Linked DNA regions of Homo sapiens. The protein of the gene in region 1 interacts with the protein of each later gene in a biochemical or structural test. Each region holds a gene or a part of one and is shown in the gene's direction. Other genes may lie near its edges. The genes, in order: SNCAIP, PPP1CC, GSK3B and SIAH2.

What was found.
Region 2: the proteins of SNCAIP (region 1) and PPP1CC interact in far-western blotting, tested with the Homo sapiens proteins (one study listed by BioGRID).
Region 3: of the proteins of SNCAIP (region 1) and GSK3B, one has a biochemical effect on the other in vitro, tested with the Homo sapiens proteins (one study listed by BioGRID).
Region 4: of the proteins of SNCAIP (region 1) and SIAH2, one has a biochemical effect on the other in vitro, tested with the Homo sapiens proteins (one study listed by BioGRID).

What each region holds. Positions count from the first base shown.
Region 1 is NC_000005.10:122,311,040-122,315,036, forward strand, and holds the start of SNCAIP (synphilin-1), read left to right. Parts: upstream 1-1,197; 5' UTR 1,198-1,245; exon of another isoform or gene 1,246-1,881; intron 1,882-3,997. UniProt on the Homo sapiens protein: Isoform 2 inhibits the ubiquitin ligase activity of SIAH1 and inhibits proteasomal degradation of target proteins. Isoform 2 inhibits autoubiquitination and proteasomal degradation of SIAH1, and thereby increases cellular levels of SIAH.
Region 2 is NC_000012.12:110,717,047-110,722,535, reverse strand, and holds the end of PPP1CC (serine/threonine-protein phosphatase PP1-gamma catalytic subunit), read left to right. Parts: coding exon 1-64; intron 65-266; coding exon 267-401; intron 402-1,370; coding exon 1,371-1,460; 3' UTR 1,461-2,331; coding exon of another isoform or gene 2,332-2,402; 3' UTR 2,403-2,856; downstream 2,857-5,489. UniProt on the Homo sapiens protein: Protein phosphatase that associates with over 200 regulatory proteins to form highly specific holoenzymes which dephosphorylate hundreds of biological targets.
Region 3 is NC_000003.12:120,082,762-120,088,394, reverse strand, and holds part of GSK3B (glycogen synthase kinase-3 beta), read left to right. Parts: intron 1-3,746; exon of another isoform or gene 3,747-3,831; intron 3,832-5,633. UniProt on the Homo sapiens protein: Constitutively active protein kinase that acts as a negative regulator in the hormonal control of glucose homeostasis, Wnt signaling and regulation of transcription factors and microtubules, by phosphorylating and inactivating glycogen synthase (GYS1 or GYS2), EIF2B, CTNNB1/beta-catenin, APC, AXIN1, DPYSL2/CRMP2, JUN, NFATC1/NFATC, MAPT/TAU and MACF1.
Region 4 is NC_000003.12:150,756,600-150,760,497, reverse strand, and holds part of SIAH2 (E3 ubiquitin-protein ligase SIAH2), read left to right. Parts: intron 1-3,898. UniProt on the Homo sapiens protein: E3 ubiquitin-protein ligase that mediates ubiquitination and subsequent proteasomal degradation of target proteins.

The sequences.
Region 1 (3,997 bases):
CATCTCGCCTGGGAAAGAGATTTCTCAAAGACCATTTAAAGCTTTCCAGAGGGCAACAGCGAGACAGTCGCGAGCCAAGGTTACCATAAATGCTTCCACAACCCCTGATTTCATTTCGGAAATAAGGAAAGAAGTAGTCACCACTGCAGGCGTTGCTTACGCCTCATCCAGCAGCCTCCCACCCCCAATCCCTCAACAATTAAGAGACAATAAAAGTAAAGATAATATTACTGTAGGGCCATTGGTACACTGAAACGTCGTTGAATTAAAAAGTCTTTATTTCAGCCTAACATCTTCTCCATCCACCCACACTTGAGCACAGAACATTCCAGGCAGGCAAAGCCACCCTTGCCCTCCTCTCCTTGGCCACGTCCTCAGGGGTGGGCGAGCTTCGGGGGGAGGGGTGGGGGTGAAGACTCCGTGCCAACGCAAAATACTCTGCCAAAAGGCTTCTCAGACATGAGTTTCCCAGGGCAATGCCCACCTTCCGTTCCCCGCCTTCCCGAGTCTCTTCTCCCAGTTTATGCTGGAACCCTGGAATGGTCTGGGGACCAATGAGATGGCAGCGGTTAACGCTTGGATCACGGTGAGGGGGCGATTTCCAGGGGGAGAGGCCAAGAAGCAAGGAAGGGGGTGGGGGGCAGGAGGAGAAAAGTGGGAAGCGCGGACAAAAAGTAGGCGGGGAGGAGAGGAGAGCCCCAGCTGGGGAAAAGCAACGGCAGTCGAGGTAAAAAGAGCGAAAGGTAAAGAAAGAGCAGGTTCGTGGACAGGAGCCGGCGGGCAGGCCGGGGGATCCCTGGTGAGGAAGCGGCGAGGGAGGGGCGTGGGCCGAGCCGGGGGCGCCGCGGGGAGGGTCGCTGTCAGTCAGGCCGAGCGGGGCTCGCTGGCCTGGGGGCGGCCGCAGGGGCGCAGCGCAGCCTGAGGGCGCGGCGGCCCCGGCAGCCTCCGCAGTGGCAGTGGTGGCCGCGCCCCCGTCCCCGGCCGGGCGCCCGCGCTGCGTTCCTTGTCCCCCAGCGCCGGCTTCGGGCCGCGGCCGCCCAGGCTGCCCCCGCCCGCGCGCGCCCGTTGGGGGGCCCGGGGAGCGGCGCCCGCGGCCGGGCCGCATTGTGACGTAGCGGGGCCGCGGCAGCGCCTCCACCGCCCGCCTACTTCGGCTGAGGCTGTTCTGCTCCTGCCGCTGCGGTCCGTCGGTCGGTCAGTCAGTCCCTTCGCGCTCCTGAGCCGCCGGCGCGCCGGGCGCCCCGGGTGAGTCCAGGTCCCAAGCGGACGCCGCGGGGAGGCGGGAGGCGGGCAGCCAGCGGCTCAGCCTTTCCAAGTTTGCACCAGGCGACCCCGGCGGGTGTCGCCCCGTGCTCCCCAAGCCCCGGGACCCCTTTGTGCCGCGAGTCTCGGCTGCTCCGGGCAGCAGAGGCGCCTCTGCAGAAAGGGTTTGAGGGGGAGGTCTCTATAGTAACAGTAACAGTGGTGGCGGCAGCGGCTGCTTTACTGGGGAAAGGGGGAAACAACCCCCGCCTCGGTTTCCAAAGGATTGTTCTTTTCATTTGCCCGCCTCATGTGGTTCTTATTCTTGCTGTCACCCGGGATCTTATCGCAGGCAGGGATGGGCAGTTCCGCGGCTCGGAAAAGCTGAGATAAGGAGGGGCGAAGTAATAGTAATAGCGACAGTACTAACAACGGTAATAATAGCTGTAGAAAAGGGACGTCTGGTGTTGCTGCCGCCCCTCGCTCATCAGCACCAGCTCCCCGACTGCCCTGTCCAGCCCGGGCTCCGCCAGCCTCCCTCTAGTGCTGTTCTGCGTCCCAGGCTGGTCCGCGTGGATTTCAGAGGGGAATGTTTCTCTCTTGGCCTTGTCTCTTGGCGATGACTTTCATCTGCAGGTGGTAAGTGGGGTGAACCCAATTTTAGCTAATTGTCAAAGGCCACATTTTGTTTATTTCATTTTTACGAAGAGAAAAGAGGGAAAATTATGAGCCATTACTGGCAGCCATACAGTTTCCACAGGAAATACTAGCATTCTTTGAGGAACACGCTACTGCTTGCAGCGAAGAAAGTCTTAGGAAACAAAAAGGCAACAGCATTGTTGCTCATTTTCAATGGACGGCTAGGAGGGGGGAAACGTGTTGTTTTTTCCTGTGGGAACGTTGCTTTCCTTGGGAAAGTTAATTAAGGAAGCATTACTGTCGGTGCCCCTTTTCACTTGCTGGAGGCAGGATCGGATTCCTCTTGGCTGTTACTGACAAGTGCCCATCAAAGAGCCCGGAGGACGGGAGAACTGCTGCAGGACAGTCTCGCCACACACCACGTGCCGTGGAGCCTGGCCAGGGTGCAGTTTGCAAAATGAAATAAGGGCTGTCTGGGGAAGTTTATGAGGATTACATGTGTGCACAGTATGTCAGTTCTCCAAGGTGTCACTCTAAACACGTAATTTTCAAGCACTACTTTCGTTGCTGAATCTGTAGGAAGGGAAAAACCTATTTTTCTTTTATGGAGCAGACATCCCAATTGGGAATGGGTTGAAATCTGTATTTCATTTGTACATATTGAAAATTTAAAAGGCAAAGAACAAGGTGTAGGAAAGCAGTATGCTAATGTGTACACATCTGGGAGAGAAAGTCTATTGACTGTTTCTGATGCATCTCAATGTTAAATTACATTCAGCATGGTTAGAGTACAAGGAGACACCTTTAAGCAGTCCTCAAGACTTTTTGGAAGGTGCAATATTTCGGTACTGATCGCGGAAGTCTCTCTGGAAAGGGAGTATTAACTGAGGATTACCCATAACTAAATATGTATGCATTAACAGGTCTGGAATCAGAAAGTAAAAGATAGTGCTTCTCTTAAGGATCTTTTGGACACCTCAGTTAGAAATAAAATATAGCATGGGATTTTGAAAAGAAGGGGTATAATTTTGAATGTAAATTTCATTTTCTCCGTAGCAAGCATTTCATGAAGAAAAGTTACAGATAGTAGATTTGAAATGATGCTGCATTCATGAATTTGACGGTTACCATTTGTTGATATCCAAAAGGAAGTGACTAAAGCAAATGCATTTCTCTGTCTACTCTGTCACAACTTTCCTAATTCCAGACAGTTGTTCTGGTGCAGGTGTACAGTGGAAATGCAAGCCAAGAAACTTTGTGCGTGCTATTGTTTTGGAAGAAATTGTAGCAGTACTTTACTGCTCTTAAGGGAAACCCACACAAACATCTAATACAAACAAATGATCTTTGATATTAGCAGAAAAAGCCTGGAGCTGTTTTTCTTGCCAGATTTAAGGCATTTCTTGTCAAAAGAGGAAATCTCCCAAGGAGCAGGTGCATCATTATAGGAAACACAAGGGAATTTCTCTTTTAAATGCAAAATCTAATTGAATAGCAACAAGAGAATCAGTAACACTCTTAGAATAGAAGCTTTGTTTTTGGCAGTTTGTCAGGTTACAGTTGCAAACCACATAGGAGAAATATGTGTCTTGGGAGAAAAATGATATCCTGGTGAAAATCAAATAGTTGCTTCTGTGAAACTTTTACCCTTATATACTTATTTTCTTGTGCCCATTTGATTTATATGCAGATTCACTTGCAGGAAGTTATTTATGGAAAATGAATCAAAAACTTGTTTGCTAGTATCATATGTACTATGCATGATTTTTCACTTTATAGATTAGGTAACTAGATTTATATTTTATGGTTTGCATCTTAGCGGTTTTTTACGTTTTTGAAATTAATGATCAAAATATGTGTTAAAATAATTTTTAATTGATAAGACTGATAGCTAGGCCCTGGGAAAGTACTAATTGATTCCTAAATAGTTATCGTGCATTTACTTTGTGCTTATTTGTAATACAGCAATTTAAAATCCATAGTCTTTTCGTAAGGAACATTTTCATAGGAAATAGGACCCATGGAAAATTAAATGATACTAAACATCGAAGAACACATTTCATAATTGAGTGCCTAAGATGCTAAATAGTAATTGAAAAGGAATTCTGAGGAGAGA
Region 2 (5,489 bases), on another chromosome or scaffold:
TGCAGAAGTGGTTGCAAAATTTCTCCATAAGCATGATTTGGATCTTATATGTAGAGCCCATCAGGTATTGATTTTGAATTTTACATGTACACTTAAGAGCATGTGTGTGAGCACAGATTCTCCTTGTTGATTTTGGTGGGTAGGTATTGCTTATTTATACAAAGTGTTTCTGGAACACAAGATATCAGGCTCAATGGGAAACTGAAACATGGTTTTACTCACCTAATATTTGCACCTATTTATATTGAAAAAATTTTCTCTTCAAGGTGGTTGAAGATGGATATGAATTTTTTGCAAAGAGGCAGTTGGTCACTCTGTTTTCTGCGCCCAATTATTGCGGAGAGTTTGACAATGCAGGTGCCATGATGAGTGTGGATGAAACACTAATGTGTTCTTTTCAGGTAGAGCATGCTTTCAACATGATTTCCTTTTAATATGTTTACACTTTGCTGATTGAAAAATATAATTGCTACTTTTTGCCTAGTGTTCACTTATGCTGAGTAGGCTAAGTTTTTATTTTCCCTTAACCAGTGTGTATTATAGTTGAATAATGTGTGGATCCCTTGTAAAAGAAAAAATTAATTATGGCACCTTTTCCCAGTGTTGAATTATAAATTTTTGCATTGCATATTGGCTCCTTAATGCTTATGGCTCTTTTACTGTAAATCTAAAACCTTAATGACAATGTAATGTTCAGCTAAAATTAAATCACCACTTGAATGTGAAAAGTACTGAGTGCCTTGTGCTATGTGTTTACTTAGTTCTGCCCTCTAGTCTAACTTCCACAAAACTTCTGTTAATGTACCATGACATCATTTGGCCTTCAGTTGGCACAAAAGCATTATTTAGAATCTGCCTCAGCCTTTTTCTCATTTGCTTATTATGATACTTGTACAACTTCAAGCCAGCCTAGTCATAAACATAAATACAGCCACCAAATCATGTGGCACTCATCAGTTAAATGAATTAAAATAGTTTTTTACCAATTATCAGAGAGAACTTGCAGCTTTCAAAATTCCAAAGATTGTGCAAGGATCCCCTACAGGTTGGAGAAACACTTTTGTAAAGAACTTTTTCCCCTGTATCAGAAGGAGTAGCTAAAGATACTACCAGGTGTAGACTTCAGAAGATTGTCATTATACTCAGAGGCAAAATAATTTGTCCAGATAATAGATTTTATCTGTTCGTCATAGCGTTAATTACCAAATGTTTACATTCAACATAGCTTGTGTTAATATGCTAGGGGGGCTTTTACAGTTGTTGGGGCAGTTGTGAACACCATCTGAACAGAAGATCTGAATGAAATTTAAGGACTCTTAAGATTTGGGGTTGAGTATATTTCCTAAATTAACTGTCTTTTGAATCTCCAGATTTTAAAGCCTGCAGAGAAAAAGAAGCCAAATGCCACGAGACCTGTAACGCCTCCAAGGGGTATGATCACAAAGCAAGCAAAGAAATAGATGTCGTTTTGACACTGCCTAGTCGGGACTTGTAACATAGAGTATATAACCTTCATTTTTAAGACTGTAATGTGTACTGGTCAGCTTGCTCAGATAGATCTGTGTTTGTGGGGGCCCTTCCTTCCATTTTTGATTTAGTGAATGGCATTTGCTGGTTATAACAGCAAATGAAAGACTCTTCACTCCAAAAAGAAAAGTGTTTTGTTTTTTAATTCTCTGTTCCTTTTGCAAACAATTTTAATGATGGTGTTAAAGCTGTACACCCCAGGACAGTTTATCCTGTCTGAGGAGTAAGTGTACAATTGATCTTTTTTAATTCAGTACAACCCATAATCATGTAAATGCTCATTTTCTTTAGGACATAAAGAGAGCCCTAGGGTGCTCTGAATCTGTACATGTTCTTGTCATAAAATGCATACTGTTGATACAAACCACTGTGAACATTTTTTATTTGAGAATTTTGTTTCAAAGGGATTGCTTTTTCCTCTCATTGTCTTGTTATGTACAAACTAGTTTTTATAGCTATCAACATTAGGAGTAACTTTCAACCTTGCCAGCATCACTGGTATGATGTATATTTAATTAAAGCACACTTTTCCCCGACCGTATACTTAAAATGACAAAGCCATTCTTTTAAATATTTGTGACTCTTTCCTAAAGCCAAAGTTTCTGTTGAATTATGTTTTGACACACCCCTAAGTACAAGGTGGTATGGTTGTATACACATGCTGCCTTCTTGGGGATTCAAAAACAGGTTTTTGATTTTGAATAGCAATTAGTGATATAGTGCTGTTTAAGCTACTAACGATAAAAGGTAATAACATTTTATACAATTTCCATATAGTCTATTCATTAAGTAATCTTTTTACAGTTGCATCAGGCCTGAACCCGTCCATTCAGAAAGCTTCAAATTATAGAAACAATACTGTTCTATACGAGTGACCGATTATGCTTTCTTTGGCCTACATTCTTTATTCTGCGGTGAAGTTGAGGCTTATAAGTTAAAACAAAGGAACTAACTTACTGTCCACCAGTTTATACAGAACTCACAGTACCTATGACTTTTTTAAACTAAGATCTGTTAAAAAAGAAATCTGTTTCAACAGATGACCGTGTACAATACCGTGTGGTGAAAATGAATTCAGACTTATTAAATGATGAACTTGTTAAATCTTCTCAGTGTCTATTTATCAGCACAATACACACAGGAGAACTGTTGATGGCATATTGAATAGATTTTCCTGAATAAATTGCTCTGGAAACCACACGGTTGCATTTTGGTTTTGCTTCTTTCAAATAGTCTGTTTTCCAAAGATGGATTATAATACAGATACTAATACTCTTTGAGTTGTAACCTGGAGACATCTATTTGTGTAATAGAGTGATGAGGTGGAACGATCCTCCTCTACCATTTGGGGAGATGGGGATTAATCTGTGTCCATAGTTTTCTTACTGTCTGGGTTCACTTGAACTTAGTGGCGAATTTGAAAGCAGCTCACTTTGTTTTCTGAGTCAGCCACCTATATTTTCATGCACAGTTCTTTGATCTCTTCCCCCTTCCCTGGTTTATATGGAACACAGTATCATGTCATATTTTGTCACAAGTATGTATCTTAATTTCTCAAAGGTACGCTAAAAATGAGTGAAGAGCATGTCATTTGAAAAGCTTTTTTTCCTGTTACAAAGTGGTCTCCCTGAGGGCGTTGGCAGAGGACCTAGCGAGGAACTCTTTGAAGGACACAGAAGAGCACAGGGCCATGGACTCCCCTCTGCTAACAAGCCCCGGTCCTGAGGCATCTGGACCCTGCCATGCTCCCATCAAAGAGGGAAGGGGGACCTCATTACCTGCCTGCTCCACATTGACAATATCCAAACTTGTGCTGTTTCACTTTTACGTAATATTCTCCCAGACTTCTTTGACTATAGGAAGAAAACAGTGAATGATAATTGTGTCAAAGGCAAATTCTGCACATCTTTATGTCCTGAATGTTAATGAATTGATACTAGGATTTCAAAATGCTATAAAGTAAAATTGGGCTGCTCTACTAGGATTATATCATTATTGGAGTGTGGTATCAGGCTCAAGTTTTTCTTAAGGAACATTTATCAAGTACTAAGGATTATATCATTATTGGAGTGTGGTATCTGGCTCAAATTTTTCTTAAGGAACATTGGTCAAGTAGAAGACAAGATTAATCTTTGGTTTTAGGACCTGAGATCATTAGGAGAGACTCAGTTTGAAATCTGTTTGACAGCAGAACTTGAGATGTGTGTGATAACCCAAGTCTTGGCCCCTCCTACCTGATTTGAGTGAGTGACCTGAATGCTGAGCCACTGTGTTCCTAGCTATGAAACGTCCATAGCAGAAGCCGTCTCACATTGTGAATCTTGAGTGAAGTTGTGTGGTGTCTTTAGAATGCTCAACTCGGTGGTATTTGCTAAATGTTTGCTTTTGGTTATCTTATCGATCCCAGTTCTTTCGTGTCTTTGCACATCTCGGTTGGCTGAGTTTGAAGTGTCACTTGCCTTTGCTTTGCTTTGCACCTGATACCAAGCCATGGATAGCTAAGTATGTCTGAGCATTTACTGCATAAGGGAACACCATCATGGATGTTTTCAGCATATGCAAAAGAAGTAACTAGGAAAGAGGAAGTTGTAATTATTAGTGTGATACTATTCTATTAAGTGTTTTGGTTTGGTTTTGTTTTTGTCAAGTATTCTGGGTCACAAGATGACAGCACCATTACAAAACCATACAGAAAGGCAGGTGCTAGGCATCCTTAGTCGCTCAATCATCTATGTAATACCCTCCCATAGAAATTGCTGATTTGGTACACAAACTAGGCCTGCCCATGTCTAGTTGCAGTGGACAGCACAGATGCTCACATATAACCCTTGTTCTTGAAGTACCTTGATTTAAGGCCAGAGTTCTCGAGTAACATACACATAAATGGGATATGGAACACAGGGACTAGGAAAAAATTACTGAATGCTGAGCCATGAAGAAGGCACATGATTTAAACTGATGGAAAGGAATATCAATCAAATTTCTCAATGTGGGTCCATGATGAGCGTTTGAAAGGGAATTCAGTTTGCTGGGAAGTGAAGATACAAGCTACCAAGTTAAGGCATCATGATACCAAAAAACACAAAGGAACCATTGCAGGGAAGTGCTGCATGAAAAATCTTAGGTTTATTTTGGCAGTTTGCAGACACCATGTGAATTGAGACACGGAGACAAGGGCCATGTAATCCAAGTATCACCTGAAATTAGTAGAAGGGACAAAGCTGAGGATCTGCATCAGAACAAAGAAGGAATGTCTTCCTCATGTTTGGGTCTATAGAAGACATTAAAGAAAACTTCCAGAAAGTGGGTTTGAGGCCGGGCATGGTGGCTCACACCTGTAATCCCAGCACTTTGGGAGGCTGAGGCAGGCGGATTACAAGGTCAGGAGATCGAGACCATCCTGGCTAACACGGTGAAACCCTGTCTCTACTAAAAAAAATAGAAAAAATTAGCCGGGCATGGTGATGGGCGCATGTAGTCCCAGTTACTCAGGAGCCTGAGGCAGGAGAATGGCGTGAACCTGGGAGGTGGAGCTTGCAGTGAGCCGAGATCACGCCACTGCACTCCAGCCTGGGCGACAGAGCGAGACTCTTAAACAAACAAAGTGGGTTTGAAGTGCTATGTCTCCATTTTCCTATCTTGAGGAAAAGACCCAAAACTCAACCTCATGTACCAGCTGGCTTGAATCTGCAGGGGTGGTTTTGATGAGTAAGAACTTTCAGTCCTGCAAATCAGATGTATGCATCAGCCCAGACTGGAAGAACATGGCACCCTCTGCCCCAGGCTTTGGTTTCCTTCTCACCCACAGAAGAGGAATAACTAGAATACTTAACGATGGGATTGTGAGGATTAGCCCACCAAAAATCTACAACTTGCCTTAGTCATAAGCATTCAGGAAACAGCCCTGGTATAAGACCAATGAATAGCCCTAAGATTTAGACCAATGGCAACACACAGGAACT
Region 3 (5,633 bases), on another chromosome or scaffold:
GTTAAAGAAGTTTGTTTTCCCTGAGATTTTCTGCCTTTAAATTTATATAAAAAAGGAATATTCCATTTTACGTTATTGAGTTTTCTATTTTTTTAAATGAGCTAATACTCAGTACATAATGGACATTTTTAGTAAATTATTCCAATATACTTGTGTCTGTAATGCATTTGATGTGGTATAAGATTTAGAAACACAATTTAGTTCGGCTGGCACGGTGGCTCACGCCTGTAATCCCAGCACTTTGGGAGGCCGAGGCGGGTGGATCACGAGGTCAGGAGATCAAGACCATCCTGGCCAACGTGGGGAAACCCCGTCTCTACTAAAAATACAAAAATTAGCGGGGGCGTGGTGGTGTGCGTCTGTAGTCCCAGCTACTCAGGAGGCTGAGGCAGGAGAATCGTTTGAACCCATGAGGCGGAGATTGCAGTGAGCTGAGATCGTGCCACTGCACTCCAGCCTGGGCGACAGAGAGAGACTCTGTCTCAAAAAAAAAACAAAACAAAAGACAATTTAGTCGATTTGGGTTCTTAGTTTATAATCCCCCTTACCATTTTTGCTTATATTTTGGGAAGAGAGGTCAACTTCCAAACAATGTGCAGGTTCCAATTTTATAAGTGATTAAATCTTATATTTTTTGTATTGAATAGTTTTCTTAGCATGTTTGGTTTGATCACTTGAAGTAATGATGTATTTGTCTTGAAACTAGTTTTGTCAAACCAACTTTTTATTTCCAGAGTACCATGGTTAACAACAGCACAAAGCCAAGTCCTTAACGTGTTCCCTTAATAACATGGTCTAAGGTTAATTTCTTGATTCTTATTTCAAATCAATTCAGTAATAAAAAGTACACTTTTTTTTTTTTTGAGATGGAGTCTCGCACTGTTTCCTGGGCTGGAGTGCCATGGCGTGATCTGGGCTTACTGCAACCTCTGCCACCCAGGTTCAAGCGATTTTCCTGCCTCAGCCTCCCAAGTAGTTGGGATTACAGGTGCCTGCCACCACACCTGGCTAATTTTTTGTATTTTTAGTAGAGACGGAGTTTCACTGTGTTGGCCAGGCTGGTCTCAAAATCCTGACCTTGTGATCTTCCCACCTCGGCCTCCCAAAGTGCTGGGATTACAGGCGTGAACCACCACATGTGGCCGAACTAAATTGTGTTTCTAATTTAGTTTTCCTGAAGAATAACAGCTATGCATCAATGTGGAATTGTGTTATTTGGAATCTCACCTTATTGGAATTGGCTGGTAATTGACAGTAAACCAGAAGTGCTCCTGAGCAGCTAATATCTGCAGACAAATGGAGTGTAAACTTTGCTCATAGGTTAGTTTTCAGGCTTTTATTAACGGTTCCTTGTTATTATTTAACATATAGTTGTAATTCATTGAGTTGTCTGGGTTTTTTTGAAATCACAGATCAGGGGAATGGATAGGTACTGATTAAGCATTATGCTACTGAAAAGAATGGATGATTAGGGGAAACAAGCATATTGGGATTACTTAGTGTATGTAGGGTATGTAGGTTCATATAGTTCCAGGGTAAATCATTCTGATAATTGTTGAAAATGTTCACCCAGAGAAATTTTTTTTTTTTTTTGGAGACAGGGTCTCGCTGTGTTGCCTATGCCTAGCCTGGAGTGCAGTGGCACAGTCTTGGCTCACTGCAGCCTCTGCCTCCTGGGCTCGGGTGATCTTTTAACCTCAACCTCTGGAGTAACTGGGACTATAGGCATGCGCCAACATGCCTGGCTAGTTTTTGTAGTTTTTATAGAGAGGGGGTTTCGCCATCTTGCCCAGGCTGGTCTTGAACTCCTGGAATCAAGCAATCCTGCCTCAGCCTCCCACAGTGCTGGGATTACAGTCATGAGCCACTGCACCCATCTGAGAATATTAATTCTCTTTTAAAGAGGCAGGAGGCAGAAAAATCTCTTGTGGAAACCTGGGCTTCTGCATAAACTACATAAAATATCTGTAATTTGTTGATCACTGAAGTGATGAAGAGAACTGGGTCACCTCTGTCTGATTCACCATCTTCTAGTTGGATTTCAGCAGTATGGATAAAGGTACTAAAGTCTTTAGTGTGCTAGCCCAGGGTATTGTTTCCAACTCTTTCTTCCATTGTCCATCTACATTTATTAACTCAGCAGCAGAGTTTTATCTGATTTAAGATTTGTTGTCTTACTATTTCTGTTTTTTTTTTTTTCCTCCTTAGTATATATGGAATTGCTGCTTGGATTTTGGCTGGCTTGTACCTTTTGTTTGTGGACTGCTTAGAAGGCACTGCATGGAGTCATTTAAGCTTTCTTATGAATTATGAATAGCTATGTAGAGAGGAACTTTTCTAGATACATTTATGGCCTATGAGAATTGAAAAGCTGGGTATCTTAATTGTTAGGCTGAAGAAAAAGGGTGATAGTGGCAAAGTAGTTTTTCTTTTGGAGGTCTGAGAAATTCTTAGGGGCTTAATTGGCTAATATAACTAGAAAGGTTGGGTGATTTAGGTTTTTTTCCAAGGAAAGGTATCTTATTTAAATGCAACACTGTCTGCTTCCTGTTATTTTATAAAATTAGTTAATACTTTTTTTTTTTTCTCAAGACGGAATGTCACTGTGTCGCCCAGGCTGGGGTGCAGTGGCACAATCTTGGCTCACTGCAACCGCCACCTCGAGGCCTGGTTCAAGGAATTCCCCTGCCTCAGCCTCCTGAGTAGCTGGGATTACAGGCATATGCCACCATTCCCCGCTAATTTTTTTGTATTTGTAGTAGAGATGGGGTTTCACCATGTTGGCCAGACTAGTCCTGAACTCCTGACCTCAGGCAATCTGCTGGCCTCAGCCTCGCAAAGTACAGCAAAATCAGTTAATATTTTTAATTGATTAACACTTTCTTCATGACCTGTGTTGAAGTTATTGAGTTGAGTCAATTGAATTTCTAATGCTAGATTTTGAGTATGTGGTGTGAGCACCTGAAGAGTTGGAGGTACTGGAATTATGTCTGACATCAGACTGATAGTATTTGCAGGGACATTTGCCCTAGTGGAATTCAGGGTTTTCACATTCTATACATTACTTAAATTATGAAGGAAAGGGGGAAGCTTTGAGTTGGTAGACTTTTAATAATAAGATATAATTACATGTATATAGAAGAGCAACGTACTGTATATCATATTCTCATAATATATGGTAATAACGGCAGTAATTATTGAGTGCGGTGTGCCAGATAATTGCATGTTTTATTTACCTATTTTGCTTTAAATTTTAAAAAATGTAATTTACTCACATGGTTCAAAATTTTAAAGATATTCAGTGAAGTCTTCTCTCCTGCTCTGCAACAACCAGTTCTCTTTCCTGGAGACCACTGGCATTACAATTTCTTATGTGTCCTTTCATAGGTATTCTGAATCTTTACGGATTAATGATTTCTATAGTAGACTTGCATTTTGTGTATACATACATAAATTAACAATAGCTTTAGCAGAAGTGTTAGAATTAAAACAAATTTAAATCAGTAACTCTAGAAAATTGCTATTTTTTAACCTATTAAATTAGTAAATACTTATTTCTCTAAATATAAGTTAGTTGGAGAATAAGTGCAAAGATGACAGAGCTCCTCTCGTGGCAATTAGAGGTAAAATGTTAATAGTCTTAACCAATGAACAATTAATAGCACATTTAAAATAGATGTTTATTTCATAATAAAAAGACAGGATAATTTTTTAACTTTCTATTTTTCTAACATCTTAGATGAGAAAACCTGTTCTCTTGAGAGATCAGAGGCGCAGAGTGCGTCAGTGTCAATGAAGCCTGTGCCTTTTACTTCTTTAAGAGCGTACGGTTTCATTCTGCTCCTAAATCAAGCACCCCTTAGTTGTTGAATAAAAATTACTTTTATAAAGGAATATATGATTTAAAGAAATCAAATAGTGCAGAAGGGCTTATGATGGAAAGTAATCTTCTGTCCTCCAGTCCTACTTCTTAGAAGCAACATTGGCTATGACAGCTGTTTCCTCTAGTAGTTTTTGTCATATTTTTAATTATATGCTTTTTATCTATTTCTTAAAATTAATTTTTTTGTCTTATTGTGGTAGACATCATTTATTGTCATGCCCATCTCCCTTTTGCTTTCATACTGATATAATTATGCCACTATTTAAAAACTATTATTTATTTAAATTATTATTCAAATTATTCTCAGTATGTAGACATGGAACAGTATTCTATGTAGAAACAAGTAGTATACAGTGATCACATTTCCTTATGAGAATAGCTTTATTGAGATATAATTCACATACCGTAACATTCATTTTTTCATTACTCAGGTGTTCATAGACTTGTGTAACCATCCCAACCATCTAATTTTAGAGCACTTTTATCATTTCAGAGATAAAGCTTATACCCATTAGCAGCCATTCCCTATGTTCCCCTTCCCCACAGCTCTAGGCAACCACTAATTTACTCTCTGTCTTTATAGATTTGCCTGTTCTGGACATTTCATATAAATGGATTTATGTAATACATGGCCATTTATGACTGTTTTCTTTCTCCCATGTTATAGCATGTATTAGTACTTCATTCCTTTTTATTGCTGAATAACATTTCATTGTATGGAAATCCTGCGATTTGTTTATTAGTTGATGGACATTTGGGTTGTTTCTGCTTTTTGACTAGTATGAATATGCTGCTGTGAACATTTGTGTGCAAGTTTTTGTGTGGACATATGTTTTCAGATCTTTTGGGGTATATACCTAAGTAGTGGAATGGCTGGGTGATATGGTAACTCTCTGTTTAAAGTGTTAAGGAGCTATTAAGCTGTTTCAAAGTGACAGTCACATTTTTTCCTTTGCTTTTAATCTTTTTAGACTTTATTGTTGCCATTTTCTTTCTTTTTTTTTAAATACTGTTTGTAATAATTATAATCTCAATTCTTCCCCCCAAATGTACCAATTTATCAGACATTCTCTGGATTTCTACCTGCCTCCTGCCCCTTTCTTTTCCTGGAGTGTCCTTTTTCCTGGAGCCCTCGTCCAACTGCTGGGATCTGATCTAGTTGTTCTCCAGGCCCCGTTGTACAGCTGTCATCCTCTGACTTCTTTCGCTGCTCTTCAGGGTTGGCTCTCCAGTTTCCTGGATCCCATATCTCTAAATAACATTTCATTGTATGGAAATCCCATGATTTGTTTGTTAGTTGAATAGTTCTTATCTGATAACTGTTTGATAAATATACCTGGAAAAGTTGTTCATTGTTTTTTTCCATATTTGTTCCAAAAGGGCAGTTAAGAAGCTATATACTTTTTGGGCAGATACCCTCACCCTTGCAGTATCTAGATACTGAGAAATAGATGTTGGAAGGTTACTTTGTATCATTTTATTAAGTGATTACCATGCAAACATAAGGCAAGTACAAAAATCTGAAAAATATTAATATTAAGTAATTGTTTAGACTAGAGCTATTCAGAAGAAATATTATATAAGCCAAAAAGGTGAATTATATATGTAATTTTAATTTTCTATGAACCACTTTGAAAAATAGACACAAGTGAAATTAATTCTAGTAATATATTTTATTTAACCTAGTGTATCTAAACTAATAATATATCAAGATGTAATCAATATAAAAATTATTGAGATATTTTACATT
Region 4 (3,898 bases), on another chromosome or scaffold:
TTTCCTAACGTGAAACAGGCTACTGAAATCAACCTTGAAGAGTAGTTCTGGGAATCAGGGGTTCTCAGCCTTTCTGTACATGTCAGTGGTTTTCTGAGTCTCTATTCTATAAGAATGCAGTGGGGTAAAGCTATTACTTTGCAAGCTGAAATTTAAAAGGGCCAATTATTCCCCTGCAGACCAAGAACCAAGCTTAGGATGTGATCTTGGGGATGCTTTTGTGTGTGCATGTGTGTGAGTTGTATAAAGCTGGGGTGTGTGTCCCTCACCTTTGGTTGATCAATAATCCAAACTATTGGCAGGGCAGCTCAGCCAGTTAGTCTGGATAAACCAAACTTGAATGTATACATAGGCCCAGCGACCAACCAAGATGTGTTAGTTGTAGAGGATGAGAAACAACAGAGAGCCGTAAGGCCTGTATCAAACTTAAAACAAGGCAGATCTGTTTACCTAGCCCTTTGGCCTACAGTTTGAGGCTCCTAGAAATTATGGGACTGCCTTTTTACTGTCCCCACCTGCTCTCAGAATCTCTCATGGGCTGGCTCATGTGAAAAAAACCAACGTTGAATAAAGTACCAGAGCCCACATCTCAAGAGCTGCCACTGTTTGCCTGAAAGACCACCTCCCAGGGCCTTGATTTCCTCATCTATACAAATGAGAGATGAATCTGCTTGACTTCTAAGGACCTGTAGCTTCTAGCATTCTATGAAAAGAAGGGAGGCTATCTGGAATGTTATTGGATGCCCTCTATCTGCCAGTTACTTTGCAGGGGTCAGCTTTTACTAGTTTGCCTTTTTTTTTTTTCAGATGAGGAAACTCATGCCTACAGAGTGGTTAAATGTGAAGTGACTTGTCAAATCACACAGCTAGTAAGAGGACCAGTCCAAGCACCTGCATCTCAAAGGCACAGATGTTTTGTCCTACACCTTACTACGTAGGGATTTCGAATCTGAGTGTATACTCAAGATTCTGAATCATAACTCAAGGTTGACACCAGTAACAAAACCGTCTGGTTGGATGAGTTCACCAGATGGGCCTCTTATGGGACCATCCCAAAATGACAACATACATACTCACTATGAAATTCATTGGCAGGAATTTTGTAGGGCATGTAGGGTAGGAAGATGGGAGGGTGGGGGAAACCTACAAACCTAGTATTTTGTGGGGTATCATCACAGCTCTGGACTGCTTCAGTTGGCAAAAAAATGGATGTATTGCCAAATAACTATCCCACTTAGGTTTAGGGTAATTAATTAAAGGCTAGAGTGTTGCCAGCACCTTTGATATGGGGAACCGGATGCATTATTAGCTCAGATCTTTGGGTGTGGTGACTCATGCCTGTAATCCCAGCACTTTGGGAGGCAGAGGTGAGCAGATCACCTGAGGTCAGGAGTTCGAGACCAGCCTGGACAACATAGTGAAACCCTGTCTCTACTAAAAATACAAAAATTAGGGCCAGGCGCAGTGGCTCACGTCTGTAATCCCAGCACTTTGGGAGGCTGAGGTGGGTGGATCACCTGAGGTCAGGAGTTTGAGACCAGCCTGACCAACATGGAGAAACCCCGTTTCTACTAAAAATACAAAAAAGTTAGCTGGGCATGGTGGCACATGCCTGTAATATCAGCTACTCAGGAGACTGAGGCAGGAGAATTGCTTGAACCCGGGAGGCAGAGGTTGCAGTGAGCCAAGATCACGTCATTGCATTCCAGCCTGGGCAACAAGAGTGAAACTCAGTCTCATTAAAAAAAAAAAAAAAAAAAATAGCCAGGTGTGGTGGCAGGCACCTGTAATCCCAGCTACTCAGGAGGCTGCGGCAGGAGAATCGCTTGAACCCAGGAGGTGGAGGTTGCAGTGAGCTGAGATTGTGCCACTGCACTCCAGCCTGGGTGACAGAGCAAGACTCTGTGTCAAAAAAAAAAAAAAAAAAATGGAATGTCTAATAGTGTATGGCTTTCTTCCGCTTGGGGTATTTTTTAATCCATTCTGTGGCTTGTTCCATGCCTGAGAACTTTTGACATCCTGTGCCCAGACTTAAACTCACCCCTTCAGTGTGTGGGTTTAGGGGGAGAAGTGAAGGTTGACACATTCATATCAACAACATAGTCTACTTTACCATCCAACGATGTATTTTGATATCAGCCAAGTATTTCTCTCTACAACTGTGAGCAATGCTAATCCACTCCAGCCTTCTTACACTGTAATGATACCTTTTCTTTGTCCTCTCTGAAAGTTTCTAGTAGCATATCTCCAAATAATTATTGAATTTGAAAGCCTCAGCTGGACAAGTCTTCTCTGTGGTTGAATTGTGACAATGTCTGTGTTCCTTAAAAAAATAAAAAATAACATAAAACCAAGTAAGGTTAGACAAAACAGTTGAAAGTTTAAAATCCCTTGGCCTCATCTAGTTCAGTGGAGACAAACTTTCTAAATGGGAGGAGGGCCATGTAATGAGAGGAGAGGAGAGGAGAGAAGTATTTGATGCACTCATGGCCTCAGGGTCAGGGAGACCTGGAGGAGCAGTGGAGATGGTGGAGAGCCAGAGAACAGGTGCCACCTCCCAAGAGGCAGCCTTTACTCACCTCTGGCTGATTGGTGGGGTTGGGGATGTGGGTACAGGCATATCAGACCTTTAGATTTTTTTCAAGAAAAGCCAGAAATCTGGATCTTTTTTTTTTCCTTTAAGAGATGTCATCTCACTATGTTGCCCAGGCTGGTCTTGATACTCCTGAGCTCAAGCAATCCTCCTATCTCGGCCCCCCAAAGTGCTGGGATTACAAGTGTGAGCCACCGTGCCCAGCCTGGATTTTTTTTTTATGTTAAATATCTCGATTTTTTTTCTAGCATTGGCTGACTTCACATGTATAACCACCACTTGCAGACAAAGCGAACCACCACGTCTCCAGGCCAAATTCCAGCTGCCAGCATGCAGCCTCTGATCTGATTCTCTTGTAGAAGCATTCCTTGAGCCTGGAAGTTCTCATTTAACTCTTGCCATACATGAACTTTGGAACTCTGTTAGGCCCTAACTGTTGGTGATTTTGTAGCTTGTTTTCTTTTCATCTTCATTTTGCCAAGAGAATATTATTTTCTGGCCATCAGGAACCCTCAGATGATGGCCTTGTGACTAGATGTTTGACTCTATACAGGTCAGTTTCTTTTTTGCACCTGAGGGTCTTTAAGAGAAGGGATTGGACTAAATGATTATCCCAAGGTTCTTTCTTACCCTAAAATTTTAAAATATAGTAAGCGGTCCCAGTGAAAAGAACGTGAGCCAGGAAACAGAAGACCTGGGTTCTCGTCCTGGCTTTGTGTGACTTTGGTCCAGTCACATACTTCCCTGACCCTGTTTGTTCATCCATTAGAAAGAACGGAGATGACGCCTAGTTAGTGGGTGCTTGGAAATCAGATTAGAAGTGCTGTTGAGGGCTTTTGCTTCACCATATGGAATGGAATATGGGGGGTATTGGGGTGGTTGGAAGGTTGCAATGGGGGATCACCTGGAAGCAGGAAGCACAAGCCGATTAGCCAAAAATACTTTCAAAAATTTCTTCCTAACCCCCAGAATTCTCCTAACACAAAACTATTTACTTTGGAAGTTGTCCCTGAAGTCCTCACTACTGCCTGACATGGGCAAGGTTGGCCCATAAAAGCACAGAGTGAACTGGCAAGGACCAGAGTCCACATACATTAACTCCGGGGCTCAAGATTTTAAAGAACAAAATTGATAATACACCTTTCGTTGTAGTTTACTTTTTGTATAAAGCAGAAGCATTAGAATACTATATGGCAGTACTTAAGCTTAATGGTAATTCCACACATAACTGGCCAAAGATTTTTCACAGGTCACCATGACCTGGAACTAGAGTAAATAGTTATCAGTGAAAGTTGAGCCTTAGTA